5 separate regions of the Homo sapiens genome follow, and all the other regions are linked to region 1. Evidence: fine-mapped expression QTL. A gene starts in region 1. Each other region holds a variant in brackets. All regions are shown on one strand. Distances are from middle to middle.

Region 1 (4,113 bases):
CTTGACTGCACAGCTGGAAAAGTCATCATAAACTGAGCACACTGTAACCAGCACTCAGACCAAGACACAGAACACAGCCAGCCCCCAGACACGTCCTCTGTGCCCTGCTTCCTGGCTCTGGCACCCCTCCCTCCAAGGGTAACCACTATCCTGACTGCTACCCCCATATACACCTTCTACCACTTTATCCACATGGAAACAAATATGGCTTTTTATCCTCTGGCTTCTTTTCCTCAACATCATTTGTGAGAGTCATCCATGTTGTTGTGTGTAGTTGATTATTCACTGTCATTGCTGTCATTCCACTGTGTGAATATATCACAATTTATGTATCCATTTAACGGCTGATGAGCATTTCAGTAGTTTCCAGTTTGGGGCAATTATAAACACTGCTGCTATCAACAGAAACACAATGTTAGGTGTGTATCTAGGAGCAGAATTGCTGGGTAATCAAGGCCTTTCAAAAAGATTTTGAAAGTTGTACCACTTTGCATGTCCACCAACAGTGTCTGGCAGTTCCAGTTGCTCCATTTCCTTGTCAACACTTGATATGGTCAGATTTTCCCATTTCCGATGCTCTTGGAGGCTCTGCTCTGCACTTCACTTCTAAATTCCTTTAGCAACAGGTGAGATGGATCTTACGATTTCTATTTTACAGATGAGGACGCCAAGGTTCTGAGAAATGAAGTAATTCCTCCAAAGCAACTTAAACCCTGGCAAGGGTGCAGGGCTGCGACGTTAACAGGGTTGGCCTCAGCCCATCACATCTGTCTGTTAAAGCCGCCTCCCCAGACCTTGTCTTGATGGGGTTTCCCAGCAGTCCTGCCCTAGGGATTGTGGCCCTTCTACACGTGGGGAGAGACGGATCAGTGTCCCTGGCCAGGGCCAAGCCTGAGAGGGAGGCCCAGCCTCCAGGAAGCTCCGGGTCGGGTCTTCGTCCTGCCCCGCTCTCCAGGTTGGAGAGGGGACCCGCAGAGCGCGGGGCGTTGGGGGAGTTGGGGACGGGGGCGTGGTCCGGGACCAGGTAGGAGGTCTTCGGAGGGTGGCAGGGAGGGGAAAACAGGAGAGTTTTCTCCTGCAGCGGAGGAGGGGCTGCAGCACCTGGATGGGGCCCATGTCGCCGCGCCACGGGCAGGGGCGGAGGGGGCGGGAGGGTGCTTGCCAAGGGGCTGGGCTGCCGGGGGCCGGGGCCTCGTGGCTAGCCGGACCCCTCTGCGACAGAGTGGCGAGAGGAGCGGGGAGAGAAGGTGGGGACAGGCGGGGGCCACCTCCTGCGGCTGCAGAGAGGGATGGGGTGGATTGCGGGCCAGCGCTTTAGGGGAGAGAGGGCGGACGCTCGGTGCGGAGGGGCCGGGGCCGGGGCCGGGGCCGGGGGCGTAGCGGGAGGAGGGCGGGGGCGGGGCTGGATTATGGCTGGGGGCGGGGCCATGGCGAGACGGGGGCGGGAGCCACGGTGCGCGCGGGGGCGGGGCAGGGGCGCGGCGGGGGCGGGGCGGCCGTTCGGGGGCGGGGTGGGCGGCAGCGGAGGCCAATGAGCGCGCGCGGCGCAGACCCCGCCCCCCGAATCCCCGTCCCGCGGCGGCGGGTGCTGCATAGTCATGAGGCGCAGGGGCCGGCGCTGCGTCAGCGGAAGCGGCGCGGAGCGGCTGTTTCCGACCCGATAAAGCGGCGTTGTCTCCGCGCGCCGGCCGCAGCCTCGCAGCGCTCTCTCCGCGCCCGCGTCGCTGACTGACCGCCCGGCCGGCCGGCCGAGGGAGCAGCCCCCGCCCGGACCCGCAGCCGCCTCCCGACCCCGGTGCGCCCGGGGCTCCGCGCCCCCGTAGCCCCTGCCCGGCCCGGCCCGGCCGCCCCGCCGCCCCCGCGGCCCCGGCCGGAGGAGACAGGTGAGTGGCCTGCCGCCCGCAGCCGCCTGCCCCGCCGCCCCCTGCACCTCGCACCTGGGCGCCGGGCACCTGCAGCCTCCCCACCCCCACCTCCCGCACAGCCTCGGCCTCCAGGTCGGGTCCGCGCCGCAGCCCCAGCCCCGCACCTTCTCCGGGGGAGGGGACGTGCCCCCACCCGGCTTGCGCTGGCTCCTCAGGGCCCCCCAATTCCTTCCCGCCTCCTCTTTCCGGATTGCACCTGCCCTGGTCCCCAGCCCTGCAGCCTCCCTCATTCCCCCCACCCCGGCCCCCACCCCGGGGCGCGCGCCTTCATTTGGACCCGGCCCGCTTTCGCACCCATCAGTCCTCCCCGCCCCCAGTTCCTCGGTTTCTCTACCCAGAGAGGAGCCTGGCGCCTCTAACTCCTGGTCCTGACCCTGTCTTGTCCTTCTAACCCCTGCCTGCTATCTCTAACTTATGAGAATTCAACCAGCGATACACCACTCGCGAAGTGGCCCCCTCTCCCCTCTGTCTGGACCGGTCCTCCCAACCGAACACACTCCCTTCTTCCCCTTCTTCCCCTTCCCTTCTTCCCCTCCTTTCCCTCTGCCCAGTGCACACACGACCCTGGCAGCACTGCTAGCCAGTGTCCCCCGCCTCGGACCCCCAGCCTGCACCGCCAGACTGTGGCTCTGCCCCGGTCTCATCGGCACTGCGCTCCCTTGTGTCCCTTTGAAGATACCTTGATTTCCTGAGACCGACCTTGTCCCTGGAGGAAAGAGGCCAGGGCATCAGTTCATCCGGGCCCAGATTCCCTGCTCTGTAGAAGTCCCCGCACCTTCTGCGTCTCAGCACCCGCTGCCCCTTTCCCCTTTGCGCTTAACCCGTTCCTCCCCCAGGTATCCTGCTCTGGATTGGAGCACTTCCAGCAGCGGCTTTTCCAGCGGAGGCGGATCCACACGGGGCCCAGCCTCCTGGTTAGCTATTCAGAATGATTCTAGAAGGCGGGGGCTAGGGAGGGCTGGGAAGGGCCGCTTGACCTCCTAAGGAGCCTGAGGTGTTTGTGTCTCTCCAGTGCGGGTCACTGATGGAGTGTGGCTTCAGGTTCACAGACCTAGCCACTGACCCCCATCTGATACCTCAGCTGACTCCAGCAAAACAGGGCTTGTCGTTTTTATTACTGTTTTGGGGGCTGTCTTTTCCAGTCTATGACCCGGAGCGAGGAGGGTTTACCAGATGAGTGATTGAACTAATTGTTGTGGGGTCAGATGATTCTTGTGGGCTGGTAGATTCTGAATCGAAGCCCATTTCTGCTGGGGAAAAGCCACTGCATCTGCCCAGCATTACTGAGAGCGCCCTGCGCTTCCATTCCCCAGACGGTCTCATCCTTCCTGTGTCATTGGCAGACAGGTAGAATGTGGTAGGAATCTTATCCTTCTGTTATTTTGTGCTGGCTTTAGGAAAAAATAAGAAAACAAAAAGCTGGAGTATTGGTGTACAGGTTAGGGAGTGTAACACATGGGGATCAGAGCAGGTAACACACACTGTCCTTAAAAGAAATGTATAGTGTCCTCACTTTTCTGCTAGGTTTGAATTATTGTTAAAAGAACGAGCAGAGATTATTTAAATGCTTGGGAGAGGTTTTGCAGAAGCCACTTGATGAGAAGAGGCAGCCCTGCAGGTTCCGGGTGGAGGAGACTCAGGCGCAGTAAAGAACTCATGTGTTTCTAGAGAGAGGCTGGGGAACTAGGTCGTCTTACACATCAAGGATTTCACACCCGTTCAGGCTAATTGTTTTTGTGGCAGTGGCTGTAAAGGAAAGAAGCAAATCGTTTGAAATGTGTTTGAAATACACACTGGGTATTTAAAGGTGTGTTTTTTTGGCCCAGGTGTTCACAGGGCGGGGAGTGGGGAGGCTGCCCAGGGCCACCTCCCGGGCCTCGTGGGGGGAGTGGCCTGCTGCCCTGCCGAGATGCGTGCTGCAGCTTTGGCCCTTGTCGCATCGTGAAAGCAGATCAGAGATTGGACTGGGTGAGCTCCAAGGTGTGTGTCTTGCAGCTTGTAACACCCTCTAACTTTGCTTATTGGAGGGGGGTGGGGGAGGGGCGGAGCAAGCCTGTAAACCGGATTCTGCCTCCTTTCCGTGAGCTCTGAGATCCCGCCCCAGCCCGCCCCGCAGATCTGCAGGGAAGGAGAGGGCTGCGGCAGCGGCAGCTCCCCACTTTCCCGATGGAGGAAAGGAGCCGAGGAA
Region 2 (4,113 bases), 99 kb after region 1:
TGCTCACGCACGGTGTGTCTGCCAGGCCACGGTGTCCCAGGATCGCAGAGGGCTGACTTTCAAGACTTCAAGAACATTTTCTGGATGTGTGGAAACTTGAGAATGGCCTTGTGAATCTCGTGCTTGGACAGGGCAAGTCCGACTACTGAAAGTGCTGCCAGCTTTGCTGCGAGCCCTCCGGCCAGCGGGAGCCCCGTGGGCTGGGCACTGTGGCCCTTCTTCTCTGGGGGACGGCACCCCTGGCTTCCTCACCTCGGCCGGGCGTCCGTGGCAGCTCACTCTATGCAACTTGATCCTCTAGCGGCTTTAAGACTGTAGATCCCCTCTCTGAGACCTGGCTGTACTTGTCAGGATCTCGAGGCGCAGCTCCCGTCTTAGCTGGTTTCTCCGGCTTCTCGTCCTGACGACTATAAAACAGTTGGAGGCAAGAAAGCAGCGGATGTGGGGTGGCAGTGGCCTGACCCGAATCAAGATCCGACCCAAACCACACCAAATGTGGGTTCATCTGGGGGCCACCCCTTGCCTGAGGCTTCCCACCCTCATCTGAAGGCCCAGGGGCCGGATCCAGGGCTCACCAAAGCCGATTCCTCGCCAGCTGGGAGTGCAGAAGTCTCAGGGCCTGGCTGCGACTTGATTTTTAGGAGGAAGAGGGGCTTCGCAACCCCCCTCTGAATAGTGTGTTAACCCTTGAGATCCCAGCCTCGACTAATCTGAAGTAAGGACAACAAAGGCCATTCAGTGCCCTCCACATGGCCTTGCCACAGTCACTGTCAGGGTATGAACGTGCCGGAAGCCAGTGCCAGCCAGGGACAGGCGTGACTGTTGTGTGCTCCTCGGTGACAGGAGTCGGTGGCTGCACACTTTGTAGACTCGTCAAGCTGTCAGCACTTCAGGTGTTTGCAAGCAAAGCCCTTCTTAGTGTGCAGGTCAGTGTGCAGAGCCCAAATGAGGGGACCGCAGGGGCTGGGGTCCAGGGTCAGTAGAGTCGGTTTCTGGAGCTGCCTTCCTGGGAGGCAGGTGTGGGTGACCGGGGCTCTGGCGGTGCGTGTGGGCCCGGCCTGGCCACAGCGGGGACCAGGTCACGACATCTTTGGCCTCAACCCCTCCCCTGCACTGAGATTATTTCCAGATTGCACTCACTTGAAACCGTCCGTGTCGTCACCTTGTGTCTTAAGGGAAGCCGAGAAGAAGGGCAGACGGGCAGGCTGTCTTGTCTGCAAAGCGCCATTGCGCCCGCAGCTTGTGTGGGTCAGGCTGCAGCTCGGGTGTCTGTGGCTTCTAACCTTGTACCTCAGACGGATGCAGTAACAAGGCGGGGCTGGGGACGCCGGTCAGTGTCAAAGGGGAGGTGCTCTGGCTGATAGCCTTGCCCGAGAGGGACGAGGAGGCCGTGCGGGTGCCCCCTGGGGAAGCTGGCCAGCCATCCAGTGCTGAGGACGCAGCTGGAGTTGGGCTCGTGGCACCCTTGGGGTGTGGGCTGTGCAGGCTGGTGGCCTGGGTGCCTCTGCACACTGAGTGGAGTGTCAGGCAGGGTGTGTCGGTTGGTCGAGTCTTGTGTAATGTGCGCAGACCAGTTACCAAACTAGGATAATGTTGGTCTCATTTGTGGTGGTTTTGTTCCCTATACAAGTCAGCTAAGTAAAGACTCTTTTAACGAGCTTCCCCTTAACACATGGCAGAAGTTTCCAGGTGCAGGAATGCGAGCTGGCGGGAAGGGGCAGAGGCCGTGAGCTCTCAGCTGGGCCGGCCTGCCTGTGTCCCCTTTCCTGGGTCTGTCGGCAGACTGGCATCATGACGTTCCCTGGTGGCTGAAGAGCTAGCTTTGGAGTGTTGTTTTTCTCACTCTCAGGCAGGGGCCTTAGCTGGAATCCTCCAACCTGCCACTGAACACGTCAGTGCTGTGTGCTGCCTCTTGGACACCTGCCCTTGAAAGCCTCAGGCCCCTGGGAGAAGCACTCTGTCCAGTCCTGTCCCCGGGGGGGAGGCAGGGCCACTGAGCCCTCCTCAGATGGTTAGTGGCTTCCAACAGCCATCAGGAGTGTTTCTTGAATGCCCCAGGTGTGGAGGACTTGGTCTGTGACCACCTAGAACCCCAGAGCTGAACAGGAAGCCGTCCCTGCAGCAACAAGAGGGCTGGAAGGGGGAGCTGCAGGCCACCCTCGGCTCTCCCACTGCTGGGGCGGTGATGTTCGGGTGACATGTTTGAAAAATACTCTTAAAGATACCAACTGTTCCCTTATATGGCTAATGGTTTGTGCAGCCACCAGCGATGGCGGCCCCTATTAGAGACCAGGTTTGTTAAAACACCAAATATTGCTGTCCACACTAGACATTAACCGGCTTCAGAAAAGATGGACACCTTTTCCCACGCTGTTTCGCTTCTTAACTTTGGTCCAGCTTTAGCCACCACACAGCGTGTGAGGGACTGCTGCTGCGGAGTCAGCCTCGTTTGTCCCTCCGCCTCCCACCAGCA[C/T]GCGCCGCTTCTGAGAGACACCAGCTCCCTGCCTCCAAGCCTGGTGCCACAGGCCTGTCGTGAGGGACCCCTGCTTCCGAGAGCTCCTGGGGGGGTTCTGCCCTTCACCACCTGGGAGAGGTGTCAGTTCAGTTCCGAGTTGAACAAGGCCCGTGCACACAGCATGTTGGGGGCCCAGCCCAAAGTTCTTGTCACCTCCTCATGCAAAGCCAGCCATCACCCTCCGGCCAGAGCTCAAGGTGGCCCCTTGGCCAGCCCCTCCTTGGGTCCTCCAGGAGGACTGAGCACCCCTCCTAGCGGCATCCCTTGCCCTCCACAGTGCTGCCAGGGGCACGTCGCTCTGTGCCGTGGACTGAGACCATCCCCTGGTGACAGAATGACCCGTTTGTTGGAAATGCCTCGTTGCCAGAGAAACTCCCCAGGCATCTCGGAACGAAACTATTTAGTTCCATTGTGAACTGGCCACGGGACAGCTTTTTATCAACTTATTAAGTTGGAGCACTGTAATCGCGCTTGCTGAGTTAGCAGTGGTGGTAAGCGTGTGTTAAACACATAATGTTACGTTTTAGGAGAGAGAGGTCGTAAGGAAGTGTCGTGTCGCTCATGACTCTCTTCTATTAGTTGGGTAACAGTGGCCTCATGTTTGTGTCTGTGTGTACACAGAGCCCTTAGGTTCTGCTCTGTTTCTTTGCCAGGTGAATGTTTGTGGCATGCGCTGCTGTCCGCGCCCCTCTGTCCTGCGCAGGGTTCAGCTGTGCGGCGCCCTGATTTCCTCCATGCACACAGAACCTCCTTGTGTCTGTTTCTCTGTTCCTCTGTGGCTGACTCAATAAACTTTTCCCTCTGACATGATGATGTGGGTGTGTCTGTCACTTCCCTGTGGCCTCCTGCCCTCTGCCTTCCTGGAGCCTGGTGGGTCTAGTGGGCTGTCTGAGGCCTGCGGAGGGGAGCTGGGCCCAAGTACCAGAGCATTTGCTTCCCAGAGGGCCGCCAGCTGGCAAATCCGGGGCCTGTCCCTGGAACCCACACACAGGCCCACTCAGGTGGGGTTGAGGCCTGGGCCTTCTGCAGGCCTGTTCTGGTGGAGCCGGGGTGGGGCCCGCGGTCTACCTCTGCTGAAGGGTCCCTGACTGTCCCTGGAGCCAGTGTCTTAAGGAGGCAGCCTGCTTGCTGTTGCTGCCAGCAGGAGGGGCCACGCTGGGCTGAGGACGGGGTGGCCCGGTGTGTGCACCTGGCTTTGGCGCCCCAGGGGACATATGGGGTCCTGGGGCGGCTGGAAGAGCGCTCCATTGACCTTCCTACAGGCAGAGTGAGTCATCTCTGTCCTCTGGCACCCCACTGAGGGCTGTGACTGGCAGTTGGCAGTGGAGGAAATGAAAGGGAGGGGACTTGCCCCGGGTTACCCAGCTGCTGGGGTTTGAATCCGGAAGCAAGTTTTCTTCAGTGGCTCTTCTGATTTGTGGGGCGTGGAAGGGGTCCCAGCAGGGCCGGGGTGTGGAGTAGAAGGGATCTGCTCAGACGAGGGAGAAAGGGACGAGGGACTTTGATAGTTGGGGGGTGTCACCACGGGGCTCCTGGATGGGACCTGCGCAGTTGGGGGCCCACGGAAGCCAGGAACCTCCGGACCTGGGGACAAGTCC
Region 3 (4,113 bases), 94 kb after region 1:
TGGCCACAAAGGGTCTTCTCCTTCAGCCGCCCCCACCCCCCTAGCACCTCCAGAGGCTTCTGGAGGCAAAAGCACTGTCCCTGCCCCTTTGGTCCCCTCAGGCCCAGTCACATTTCCCTGAGGGGGAAGCTCCAGCCCCGTGTTTTCCACTTGGATGGGAGGAAAGCCACCCAGGTATGCCTAGACTTCCTGGCGGCCACGTTTAGAAAGTGAAAAGGCCAGTGAAGGCCATTTTCATAGCATATTTATTCAACCTGGTGTATCTAAAACATTATTTCAGCATGTACTCTATATGAAAAAAGTCATCGAGATACCTTACACTCTTGCTCATCGTTGAAATTGTGTGTATGTTACATCACAGCACATCACACATGAGACGAGCTTTATCTCAAATGCTCAGTAGCCGCAGCACAGGCAGACTCTTGCCTCTTTCTGGACTTTATGCAGCTGAAACATCTGGCTTCATCCTCTAGGATTCACTCACGTGCTTGCTGGCGGCAGCACGGCCAGCCTTTTCATGTCACAGTGTATGGCCAGATGCACCCTGCTTTGTGAGCCTTTGGGTGCTTCCAGGTTGGGGCCGTCACAGGTAGCACTGCATGAACGTCCCTTGCCACAAACACCTCCTGTTGTGCCCGTGCTGTTGGCTGACAGTCTCCTTGGAGTAGTGTGGTGTGTGTGGTTTGAGGTGGGGGTTCAAGACTTTTATTTTTTTCCCTACATATGGGTGTCTGCCTAGGTCATGACCCAGCACTGCTCCCCGCCCCTCTGTGCAGTGCCACCTTTGCCATAAATTGGGCTTCCGTGTAAGCATGTGTTTCCGCTCTCTTCTCTTCCGCTAGTCTCTCTATTCTTGCACAAATGTCAACTGTCTCTCACTAGTTTTGTAATAAGTCCTGAAAACTGGTAGTAGAAATCCCTCAACTTTGTTCTTCTTCAAGATTGTCTTGGCTATTCTCAACCATTTATTTGTCATCTAAATGTTAGATTCAGCTTCTGGGCTTTTAAAATTAAAAACAAATTATATGGGTCAATTTGGGGAGAGTGAATGACTTTGTAGTATGGAACTTCCTATCCCTAAGTGTGACATACCCTTCTATTATTAATCCTCAGTGCATCAGTGTGACATGCCCTTCTATTATTAATCCTCAGCACATCTGGAGATTCTTTGGGCCATCTACTTACACAGCCACATCATCTGTGTCTAATGAGCTCCGTTTTCTCCTTCCTGATCCTTCGTACCTGTTACTTATTTTCCTTGCCTTCTTGGAATGGCTGGAACCTCCAATACTAAATATGTAGAAGTGGTGTTTGCTCTTTCAAACTCAACAGGGGAGTATTTAATATCTTACTAGGAAGTATGATGCTTTTTTTTTTTTTTTTTGGAGACAGAGTCTCGATCTGTCGCCCAGGCTGGAGTGCAGTGGTGCAATCTCGGCTCACTACAACCTCTGCCTCCTGGCTACTCAGCCTCCCGAGTAGCTGGAACTACAGGCGCCTGCCACCACACCCAGCTAATTTTTGTATTTTTAGTAGAGACGACAGTTTCACCATGTTGGCCAGGCTGGTCTCAAACTCCTGACCTCAGGTGATCCACCCGTCTCGGCCTCCCAAGGTGCTGGGATTACAGGTGGAAGCCACTGTGCCCAGCCCAGAGTATGATGCTTTAATTTGTGTTTTTCTGAGAATGTGTCCATTTCATCTGCACTTTCAAGATTATTAGCATTAAATTGTTCTCTTATGATCTAATGTGATGGAACCTATAGTGATAACACCTTTTTCCTCCCGTGTTAGTTATCTGAGACTTTATTGATTTTATTTGTGTTTCAAAGAACTTTCGGCGTCTTAGTCCTCCCTGCCACGTGTCCGCGTGCTTGCGCGTTCACTGCCGCCCTTTGCTGTCTCCTGCCTTCCGTTATGTCTTGGTTTAATTTGCTGTTGCTCATTTCTTAGTCTGATTTCCAGGCTAATATTTGCATTTAAGGTCAGTTTCCCTCCACACACACCTTTAGCTGCACCATGCAGGTTTTAATGTTGGGTTTTCTTTTAAAAGATTTTTATAATTTTCATTACGATTTCTATTTTGAACCATGAATTATTTAGAAGGACACTGATGAATTTCTGACATTTGGGCTTTTTCCAGTTGTCCTGTTGTTACTGATTTCCAGTGTGACTCCTTAATGGCCAGAGAACATACCCCATGTGGTTGCAGCCTTACAGTTAGCTGAGGCTTCCTTTGTGGCCCAGCACATCACGCGTGTTGGTAAATGTTCCGTGTACGCTTGGAAAGAATGTGGGTCCTGCACCTAGTGCCCCGTCTCTGTCTGTGAGGTCAACCTTGACATTGCTTAGCTCTTCTCTTCCTGCTTCTATTTTCTGAAAGGTAGATAACCATCTCTCACTGTGATTATGGCACACACATTTAGAGCTGCTTTGTTTTTTAGCTTCTTAGTGGACTGACCTTTTTTTCACTATCTCTAGGAAAAAGCCTTTGCAGAGATGCT[A/GTCTA]ATGGTAGTAATATATGTACAGCAGTTTTCTTTTGTATCTTTGTGCAAGAAACACAAGTGAAACTGCTCACTCTTTCCGTGGGTCCAGCCTTTGTTGCACGTGGCCACCTGCAGTTATACTTTGGGAGGCATCAACCTGGGCTCACAGCACCCCTCCCCACTCAGCCCCTGCTGGAGACCACCAGGGTGAGGGGGAGCCCGCCTGGTGGAGCCTGGCCCTGCCACCTCTCCTTGAGACTGGAGGCCAGATTCCTGGGAAGCCCACGTCCCGACTGGATTGACAGAGTTGCTTCCACGCCTGCCCTCTCCTTGAGCTAGAACTTCCCACCTCTTCCGCCTGTACAGTGCTGGACAGGAGCTGGGGGATTGAGGGTGCTCAGGCAGGAGTGGTTGCCAAGAGACTCGGTGGAAGACGGGTCATGTTTCCAGGCTTGTGGGTTAATACTCACAGTTGTGAAGCACGGGTAGCAGCCACCTTCTCCAGCCGCTCACCGCCTCGTGTTTCCTCTCTTGCAGTACATCCACCACAGCCCCGGGAACTCCAAGCGAGGGTTTGGCATAGATTGTGCCATCCTGTCCTGCCAAGTGTACATCTCGCAGATCCTGGTGGCCTCTGCCCTTGGGGGCGTGGTCGACGCCGTGGGGACTGTCCGCGTCATCCCCATGGTGGCCTCTGTGGGCTCTTTCCTGGGCTTCCTGACGGCCACATTCCTGGTGATCTATCCCAACGTGTCAGAGGAGGCCAAGGAGGAGCAGAAAGGCCTGTCTTCCCCGTTGGCCGGCGAAGGCAGGGCCGGTGGGAACAGCGAAAAGCCCACCGTGCTGAAGCTCACGCGGAAGGAGGGCCTGCAGGGACCGGTGGAGACAGAGTCCGTGGTCTGAGCCGCACTCCCGTTTACACACATTCCAGTGGGCGGGTGGGCGGGCGGGCGGGCGGCGGGGCCAGGCCATGGGCGGGAGCAGAGACACCGCGGAACCCTGCAGATGCTGTGGCCGACCCGGCAGTGCGGGCCAGAGCCCCTCCGCCCCCATAGCCACAATTCAGTAGTCGTAGGGTAGGTTTGAGCTACTAAGCAAATACCACACTAACCACTTTTTCGATAATTAAAAGAATCATTTGAAATATTTTTTTTAATTGAAAAAGATATTTTAATTTCAGCTCTTTTATTCTGCAGGTGTATTATTCTGCATGTTTTTAAATGATATAAAACATTTATATAGACAATAAGCAACTTAGAAAAAATAAGATTTTGCATTTCTAAAATTATAATTGAAAACAAAATCTGACATTCTCTGCTAAGTCTTATCTGAATGCTTCAGATAATGGTAGTGTAGTCAGTGACTAAAATATTTTTATCAAATTTCCTCTCTGTAGACGCCTGCAGGTATTGACGTCTGTCAGATCTCGTCACATTGGCTGGTGCCGCAGCTGTTGGAGAGTATTTTTCTTTATGATTATTTTAGAAAAAAAATTTTCTTTTCCACAATGTGGTTCTCTTAGAAGAATGACGTATCTTCTTTTCCTCAGCGAGTTGGACACATTGTGCCCAGGGCAGCCCTGTCCTTGGGCAGCGACCGCACACCAAAGCTGGGAGGAGGCTGGTCCGGG
Region 4 (4,113 bases), 22 kb before region 1:
TGCAGGGCCCATGTTGCAGAGAATTACTCCCAATTCCATAGACGGTCCTGAGGCCAAGAACAGAAGCAGGTGCTGGCCCAGCACCCACCTCTTGTCTGCATCCTTTCCCAGACCCCCTTCCTTCCTCCACACACCCCGGTCATGCCCACCCCGGGGTCCTTGGCCGCACAGCCCTCAGTGTTAACCCAGGACCTAGGCCCTGAGGACTGAGCTCATGGTCTCTGCAGAGGTCCCAGCAGGCAGGCAGGCTGGACACTATTCCCGGTGACAGCTCAGAGGTCAAGCAGGTACCCCCGGCCACACGGGCACAGGAGTGAAGTCCTGCAGGCTCCCCCTCCCCTAAGCTTCCGGCCAGTGCCCCCACCCCAGCTTTGGCTGGGCCTCGAAGGCTTGGCGGAGCCCCTGCGAGATGCTGCTCCCGCGGAGGACAGGAGGAGGGCTGTCCCATTGCGGTGGGTTCACTCCCCTGCCACTTTATTTTCCCAGAAAGGCAAAAGACACCTTGGGATAGGACAGTGGGATGGAGTCTGATGTATTTGAAATTGGAAGCAAAAAACCCAGCTCCCAGGGGCTGGGAGAGAGGCCGAGGGCAGTGGGAAGGTGGGGCAGGGACACACCAGGACGCAGGAGTCTGCTGGATCATAGCCAAGTGCGTGGGGCCCACTCAACCAAGGAAGAGCAGGGGGACCCAAATTAGGAACTCCCTTGGGAGGGGAGCAAGCACTGGAGAAAGCCCAGCCTGCCCTGCTGCCCTCCGCATCCCTGCAGGCTCCTGCCCGGCTGCCCTCCACGTCCCCGCAGCCTCCTGCCTGGCTGCCCTCCGTGTCCCCGCAGGCTCCTGCCCGGCTGCCCTCCGTGTCCCCGCAGGCTTCTGCACCTCTAGCTCACACCACAGGCTGCCCAGGTGGGGACCTGAACTCGGCTCTTCTCACCCACAACCTCCTGCACCAGGGCCAGCAAATGCTGCCCCTCCTGCTGTTCCCCAGCTTAATTCCCAGCTGAAAACAGAGCAAAGGCATTGGCAAGACCAAAGCCACTTGTTTCCCAAGGACCTGGATTCTGAAGCAGGTGCCCAGGTGTACGGCCACACTGGACACCCTCTTGATCCTCCCTGGAGCTGAGCTAAGGCCAAGGGCTGGCCCCAGCCCTGGCTGCCTAGTAACTATGCCCAGAGGCCCAGCACAGAAGGCGTAGCCTGCAGAGGCGCTGGGCAGAAGGACGGAGCCCTGAAAGTGTGCAGAGGACACACTGCCTGCGGGCAAGCGAGGCTGTGGGACTAAGTGAGCAGTGCAAGGTGCACCGCCTGCCGGCAGCCCTGGGCAGGGACCCCCATCCATCTGCTATGTGCTCCCCCAAGGCCAACCAGGTGTCTCTGCTGGAGACAGTCACAGTTTGTGATCTGTTTAACTGATTAGTGTCTGCTACAGACTGCCAGCTCCAGGAGGGCAGGGTTCTGTCCTGTCCCTTCCAGCTGGACCCCCACGTCCTAGCATAGTGCCTGACGTATCACATGAGCTCGGCCCATATTTGTGAGAAGAAGAGGAAGAGGGAAGGAGAGGCAGGCACCCCAGGGCCGACACGGAGGGCAGGTTGGAGGGTCTGGGAAACTTATTCAGAAGATGGGCCTGGAGCATGAGTGAGTTAGCCTCCACAGCAGCTCAGGGTTTGAGTCCTGAGAGCAGAGTTCAGCGCAGGTGAGAAAAGGCCACATCCCAGGAATGAGGAGCTGGGCCTGACACTTTCCTACGTGGCCACGGACGGCTCTCCTTTAGGGACCACGTGCATTCGCTGCCATCTCTCTCTGGCCCTAGAAGGGACGAACACCCCGATACCTCCATTTTCACAGAGGAGCAGCGGGAGGCCCAGAGGTGAAGGTCCTCACCAGGCGTGCAGCTAGGGTCTGTTCCTAAACCTGTCCTGTGCTGCCCCAGGTGCGGACAGGGGCTGAGGCTGAAGCAGAAGCCGGCCTGCTTGCCTGCTCTGTGTTCCCTGAGAACCCTGGCTGTCTAGTGGGGGCAACCCTGGCATGCCCAGAGACCCCACGCTGTGGTGGGGGAGCCCCTCACAGGCCCAGGCGCAGGTGCATGTCCTCCCTGCCCCAGAGGCCCTCGCCTCCTGCCGCTGCTGGGGGCCGCCCTGGCTGAGCGCCCACCAAAGTGTGAAGTGCTTCCCGAGGGAGTCCATGGGGAAGCCCCAGCCC[C/T]GCCTGCTGTGGCTGCATCAAGGAGGCGGCCTTCCTTCCGGGCCCATCGCCTGGGCCTCTGGGGTCAGGCCTCGGGTCACCCTCCGGCTGGGACAGGAAGCCTGACATGAGTCTGGAGTTGGGGGTAGGGCAGGGCCGGGAGCCAGCCCAGCGGGATGGGGATGCCGGCTGTCTGGGCAGACACCGGCGGGGTCAGGGAGGAGGCTGGGGTAGGGTAGCTGCCCTGTGACCTGCCCCCCTGGGATGCCGCAGAGCCCAGGCCCGCTGCTTCCCTCCGGTGCAAGCTGGGATGGGCTGGCAGCTGAATGGAGGGCCAGGAACCCCACCACAGCTCCAGGCCAGGCACCATCATTCCTGCCCTGGAAAAGGGCCTCCTTCCAGCCTCTCTGACTCTACTCCGGCCACCACAGCCCGATGTCCACGTATGTGTCATCCAAGACTGCGGCCTGAGTCTCATCCAAGATGTCATACAAGACTGCAGCCTGTCTTCTGAGTACATGAGGTGCAGCCAGTCCGAATTGAGTTGTACGGTAAGCGTGGAATATGTCCCCACCTAGTATGAGACAGACTGTGAAATATCTCATTCATAATTTGTTATATGAATGACACGTTTAAATAATATATTGGATATATTAGGTTCCATAAAATATATTACTAAAATAATTTGCATCAAATTCTTTTTCCGTTTTCCTAACGTGGCTGATAGAAAATTAGAAATTATTCACGAGGCTGGCATGAGATTTCTAGTGGAGAGTGCTGTCTCTGTGCCGACAGAGGGAGTGTCTCCAATCTAATTCACACCAGTCCCTTCCTTGCTTAAATAAAGCCCATCAGGTCAGGGGAAAGTCTCCCATGTCCGGTGTGGACTTCTCCCAGGACTCAGTCTCACCTCTGCCCACCAACCCCACTTTCCAGCTGCCCCGTGGTGCCACATCTTCCAGCTGCCCCCGTGGTGCCACATCTTCCAGCTGCCCCTGTGGTGCCACTACTGGGCCTCTGCAAGCTGCTCCTTCTCTAGGAGTGCCCTTCCCTAACCCTGTTTCCTCCTTTGTCTAGGGATGTCTTCTGGGCTTTCACAGATGCCTGGAGTGTCACCCTTTCTTCAGTGCTCCCAAGCCCACCTCCCCTGTCCACCCCCAGCAGCCCCTGCCTCAGCCCCGCTGGCTTGGGCTCCAAGAGGCGGGGCACCGTGCCGGGGTCAGGGGATTGAGTAACTTGCCTCGGAGCATCAGTTTGCTCATCTGTGAAACAGGTGCCCCATTCACGGGACCCACATCCCAGGCAGTCACTCAGCTCAAGTGAGGTCATCTAGACAGCCCCCTCAGGGCTGCCGCACAGAAGGGAATCTTTGGCTGGAGGATTAAATGTCCAGGTCGCCAAGCTGGCCACCCTCCTGAACAGAGCTGGTGAATCTTGAAAGAAAAAGAAAAATTGTTTCCGGAGCAGCAGCCCCACACTGGGCCCAAAGGTGATCGATAAGCAGGTCTGGCCCGGCGCCTCTTAGTGCTGAGAGGGCTCCTTCACTTAGGGCAGGGCTGGCTTTCAGACCAAAGCTGGCCAGCCACCTGTTTCTGTAGGACTGCAAGCTAAAATGGTTTTTACATTTTTAAATGGTTGAAAAGAAAACTAAAGAAGGGGCCAGGTGCAGTGGCTCACACCTGTAATCCCAGTAGTTTGGGAGACTGAGGCAGGCAGATCACCTGAAGTCAGGAGTTCAAGACCAGCCTGGCCAACATGGTGAAACCCCGTCTCTACTAAAAATACAAAAATTAGCTGGGCGTGGTGATGTGAGCCTGTAATCCCAGCTACCAAGGAGGCTGAGGTGGGAGGATTGCTTGAACCTGAGAAGTGGAGGCTGCAGTGAGCCAAGATGGTGCCACTGCATCCCAGCCTGGGTGACAGAGCGAGACCCT
Region 5 (4,113 bases), 61 kb after region 1:
ACGGTACCATCTTGCATTCCCACTGCAGCGTAGGACAGTTCCCATTTCTCCACATCGTCGTCAATGTTTAGTGTTGTCAGTCCTTTTCAACTTCATTCATCGAAGTGGGTGTGAACCATATCTCATTGCAGCTTTAATTTGCATGTCTTTTTTTTTTTTTTTTTTTTAAGATGGGGTCTCACTCTGTCACCCAGGCTGGAGTGCCACAGCACTATCACAACTTACTGCAGCCATGACCTCCCTGGGCTCAGCTGATTCTCCCACCTCAGCCTCCCAGGTAGCTGGGACTACAGGTGTGCACCACCACGCCCATCTAATTTTTGTATTTTTTGTAGAGATGGGGTTTCACCGTATGTTGCCCAGGCTGGTTTCGAACTTCTGGGCTCAAGCCATCTGCCCACCTCAGCCTCGCCAAGTGCTGTAATTACAGATGTGAGCTACAGGCCTAGCCTGTTTTGTTTTTTTATATATTCTTACACTTTATTGAGACGAGGTTTTGCTATGTCACCCAGGCCAGTCTTGAACTCTTGGGCTTAAGTGATCCTCTTACCTTGGTCTCCCAAAGTGCTAGGATTACAGGCATGAGCCACTTTTATTTATTTATTATTATTTTTTTTTTTAAACAGGGACTCTGTTTCCCAGGCTGAAATGCAGTGGTGTGATCACAGCTCTCTGCAGCCTCAACCTTCCTGGGCTCAAGTGATCCTCCCGCCTCAGCCTCCTGAGTAGCTTGGACTGTAGGTACGCACCACCACACCTAGCTAATATTTTAAATTTTTTAGGGAGATGGAGTCTCACTATGTTGCCCTGGCTGGTCTAGAACTCCAGGGCTCAAGTGATCCTCCTGCCTGAGTCCCAGAGTGCTGGGGCTATAGGCGTGAGCCACTGTGCCAGGTTCCTTTCCATTTTCCTAATGGTATCTTTCAGAAAGCAAAAGTTTTAAATTTTGATGAAATTTGGTGTATCAAATATGTTCTTTTTTGTTCTTTTTCAATTAAGAACTCTTTGCCTGACCTGAAGTCTTTTTTAAGAGCTGGAGGTCTCACTGCATTGCCTGGGCTGGAGTGTAGTACTGTGATCGTGGCTCACTGCAGCTTCAACTCCTGGGCCTGAAGTCTTAATGATTTTCCCTTATGTTTCCTTCTAGATGCCTCAGTAGTTCTCTCACCTAGGTCTGTGATCCATTTTGAGTGAATTTTTGTATACCGTAAGAGTTGAGGGATTCCCCCTCCATCTGGCACGTGGAAATTGAGTTGTTCCAGCATCACTTGTAAAAAGCCTGTCCTTTCCCATTGAAATCCATGGCACCTCTGTTGGCATTTACTGGCTACCTATATTGTGAATCTGTTTCTAGGCACTATTCTGTTCCATTGATCTATATGTCTGTTCCTGATACAACGATTGATTGATTTCTGTAGTTTTATGGGGCATCTCGAAATTAGGAAATATGCCTACCTTTTGGAACTTGTTTTGGGCCAGGCGTAGTGACTCACACCTGTAATCCCAGCACTTTGGGAAGCCAAGGCGGGAAGATTGCTTGAACTCAGGCGTTCGAGACCATCCTAGGCAACACAGCAAGACCT[C/T]GTTTCTAAAAAAGAAAAAGAAAACTTGTTTTGGCTGTTGCAGTTCTTTCACATCTCCATATAAATTTTAGAGTTATCAATTTCTACAAAAAGCCTGCTGGATTTTTACTGGAATTGCATTGAATCTATAGAGAATTGACATCTTAATTTCGAGTCCTTCGATCCATGAACATAATATATCTTCTCAACACACTTAAGTCTTTAATTTCTCCTAGGAATGTTTCATAATTTTTAGTATGTAGGTCCGTCACATACTTAAAGTATTTCATTGTTATCATGTTATTGTAAATAGCACTGCTTTAATTTCCATTTCTGGTTGTTCATCGTTCTATAGAGTAGTATAAGTGATTTTTATATATTGACCTTATACCTTGCAATTTTGCCAAACTCACTTAGTAGTTCCAGTAACTTTTAATTGTAAGACCTGTATTGATGTTCCTTCTTTCCTGATATTGGTAATTTGATCAGCCTGGTTAAAGGTTTATCAATTTTGTTGGTCTTTTCAAAGACTATGCTTTCAGCTTCATTCGGTTTTTTCCTCTGTTGTTTATTTTCTATTTTGTTAATTTATGCTCTTATATTCATTTTGTTTTCTTCTGCTTACTTGGTTTTAATTTGCTCTTTTTCTAGTTTATTATTTTTCTATTATTAGATGGTGTCTCACTGTGTTGCCCAGGCTGGCTGGACTGAAACTCCTGGGCTCAAGCAATCCTCCTGCCTCAGCCTCCTGAGTAGCTGGGATTGCAGGTGTGCACCACCACAACTGGCTACTTCTTCTAGTTTCTTAAGGTGAAGCTTATAGCATTGGTTTTTTTATATTTTTCTTTCCTAATAAAATCATTTATTAGAAATGGTTTCATTTCTAATAAATTTGCTGTTACACAGAGGGGTCAGGGAGGAGTATAAAGAGGCTCTAAGAGACCCCTGAGATACCCTCTGTGTGACCCCGTGACCTTCACCCCTTGGCTTTCACGGCCTTGTGCAATGCCCTCCCCTTGAGTAATTCCTGTTAACCAATAGAATATGGCAGCATCGAGGGGATGTCGCCTGACGCAAACGTGTGACTCCACCTTGCTGGGAGACCCTCTCTGTTGCTGCCTTGGCCTGCACATCTTGATGAATCAAGCTGCCTTCTTGGAAAGACCCATATGGCAAATAACTGAGCAGGAGGCCTCAGCCAACACCCCCAGGGCCGAGGCTCTCAGTCCAGGAGCCTGTGAGAGGCCCCAAACCAGAGCCACCCCGCAGAGCTGTGCCTGAATTCCCGGCCGCAGGAGGTATGTGGCCGTCACTGTTGCTCGGTGCCGCTGGGTGGTGTGCAGTTTGTTACGCAGCAGCAGGAAACCAGTACACGTGCTCAGAATATTCTGTTTGTCAGACTCTTTGCACTGCTTCCCCCTGTATAACTTTGGGTACATTGGAATTTTTCCCGTTGTCTCAATCCTCATCTTGGTAGAAGGGGTACGAAGGTACTACAGAAGCAGCATGTTTGTATTGATAAATATCGCAGCAGAAACCTTAGATTGTAACTCGTTTTGAAATATCAAGCAATAGCAAGTCTGCCCTTTCTCTCTTCCCCAAAGAAAACTTTCCCTTTGAAAATCAGCAAACTGGAAGCTGTGAGAAGCAAATTAGCTCAGTCTCTGCCATCATCAGCATCAGTAGAGGAGTTGTTTGGAATCTAGGAGCAGCCAGCTAATGCCCGTGTGTGTGAGGTGGCCCTTGATGGCAGTTTCCTAAAGCAATTCAGCCTGCACCATCCTTAGCCCAGGCAGTGTGCTATCTTCTTCAGAAGTTAGTGGTGACACTGCCTGCGATGCTGCTGGCAGACAGTGCTGCTGCCCCTGGGAGGCCCCTCCCTTCCCCCTGCCCTTGACTCCTGGGCCTAAGGCTGGTCTGGGGTTGGGACACGCTGAGGGTCTGTGAGTCCCATCTAGCTCTAAGAGTCCAGCCTCCTCTGAGCGGCAGGTTGGGAGTTGTCTGCCATCAGGTGACTTTGGTGTGCTTATGATGCTGAGACCAGATTTTGGGGTCTCCTGGGAGTCCCTGATGCTCTGGGATTCTGCTGGCTGCCCCCCGGGTCAGCCCTGGGGGAGGCAAGCAGTAAAGGGGGCTCTGGGAACCCTGGACAGAAGACGTGATGGAGCGGAAGGCCCATTGTTCGTTGAGTGATGAATTAACACTTTCCTTTATGATGATGATTCAAGTCCTGTTTCTGGTTTCTCTTTCATTTCCATTATTTGCTCAAGTGACAGAGATTTCCTGTCCCTCCTCGAAACGGTGGTGGTGGAGGTAGCAGCAGCCAGCAACCCAATGTTGGCTCCTCTTGGAGAATCCAAAAATCGACCATGTTCCAAGTGTGTAGCCTTACTTATCTCAGCAGATACCAGCATCTCCTTTCTTCTGGAAACGTGTGCAGAGTTGACACATATGATGTGCTTAGAACAGAGCCTGTAATTGTTAGCTGTTATTACTGTCATTATCTTTTTCTCCACTTGGGTTCGTAGTCAGCAGCCTTGGTGGTAACTTG

Alleles and levels. Positions count from the first base shown, and alleles are read on the strand shown. Sizes are in standard deviations (SD) of each study's normalised expression. Not every link is listed here.
As copies of T replace C in region 2, the expression in minor salivary gland of the gene that starts at base 1,691 in region 1 goes down (small effect, 0.28 SD a copy in GTEx).
As copies of GTCTA replace A in region 3, the expression in lymphoblastoid cells after a statin of the gene that starts at base 1,691 in region 1 goes down (moderate effect, 0.64 SD a copy in CAP).

The links. PIP is the estimated chance that this variant, and not a neighbour inherited with it, causes the effect. A credible set is the group of variants that fine-mapping cannot tell apart.
Region 2: its variant is the best candidate, but not a certain one, in a credible set for the expression of SLC45A4 in minor salivary gland (GTEx, PIP 0.51).
Region 3: its variant is the best candidate, but not a certain one, in a credible set for the expression of SLC45A4 in lymphoblastoid cells after a statin (CAP, PIP 0.72).
Region 4: its variant is the best candidate, but not a certain one, in a credible set for the expression of SLC45A4 in nasal epithelium (TOPMed, PIP 0.63).
Region 5: its variant is the best candidate, but not a certain one, in a credible set for the expression of SLC45A4 in tibial artery (GTEx, PIP 0.77).

The regions. Positions count from the first base shown.
Region 1 is chr8:141,305,866-141,309,978 of GRCh38, reverse strand. It overlaps SLC45A4 (solute carrier family 45 member 4), which reads left to right and starts at 1,691. Exons shown (of 9, transcript NM_001286646.2): 1 at 1,691-1,883. RefSeq lists silencers at 1,456-1,695, 1,716-1,815.
Region 2 is chr8:141,206,381-141,210,493 of GRCh38, reverse strand. It overlaps SLC45A4 (solute carrier family 45 member 4), which reads left to right. Exons shown (of 9, transcript NM_001286646.2): 9 at 1-3,320. Among named protein-coding and RNA genes, the nearest start is that of SLC45A4-AS1, 46 kb to the left of the region's middle. RefSeq lists enhancers at 1,163-1,670, 1,671-2,178. The variant C/T (reference allele first, on the strand shown) is at 2,474.
Region 3 is chr8:141,211,464-141,215,576 of GRCh38, reverse strand. It overlaps SLC45A4 (solute carrier family 45 member 4), which reads left to right. Exons shown (of 9, transcript NM_001286646.2): 8 at 3,021-3,380; 9 at 3,880-4,113. The coding sequence ends at 4,005. Among named protein-coding and RNA genes, the nearest start is that of SLC45A4-AS1, 41 kb to the left of the region's middle. The variant A/GTCTA (reference allele first, on the strand shown) is at 2,505.
Region 4 is chr8:141,327,752-141,331,864 of GRCh38, reverse strand. No RefSeq gene overlaps it. Among named protein-coding and RNA genes, the nearest start is that of LINC01300, 11 kb to the left of the region's middle. RefSeq lists enhancers at 1,687-2,221, 2,222-2,758. The variant C/T (reference allele first, on the strand shown) is at 2,201.
Region 5 is chr8:141,245,072-141,249,184 of GRCh38, reverse strand. The region is part of intron 2 of SLC45A4 (solute carrier family 45 member 4); the gene reads left to right. Among named protein-coding and RNA genes, the nearest start is that of SLC45A4-AS1, 7.4 kb to the left of the region's middle. RefSeq lists enhancers at 2,188-2,868, 3,735-3,904. The variant C/T (reference allele first, on the strand shown) is at 1,584.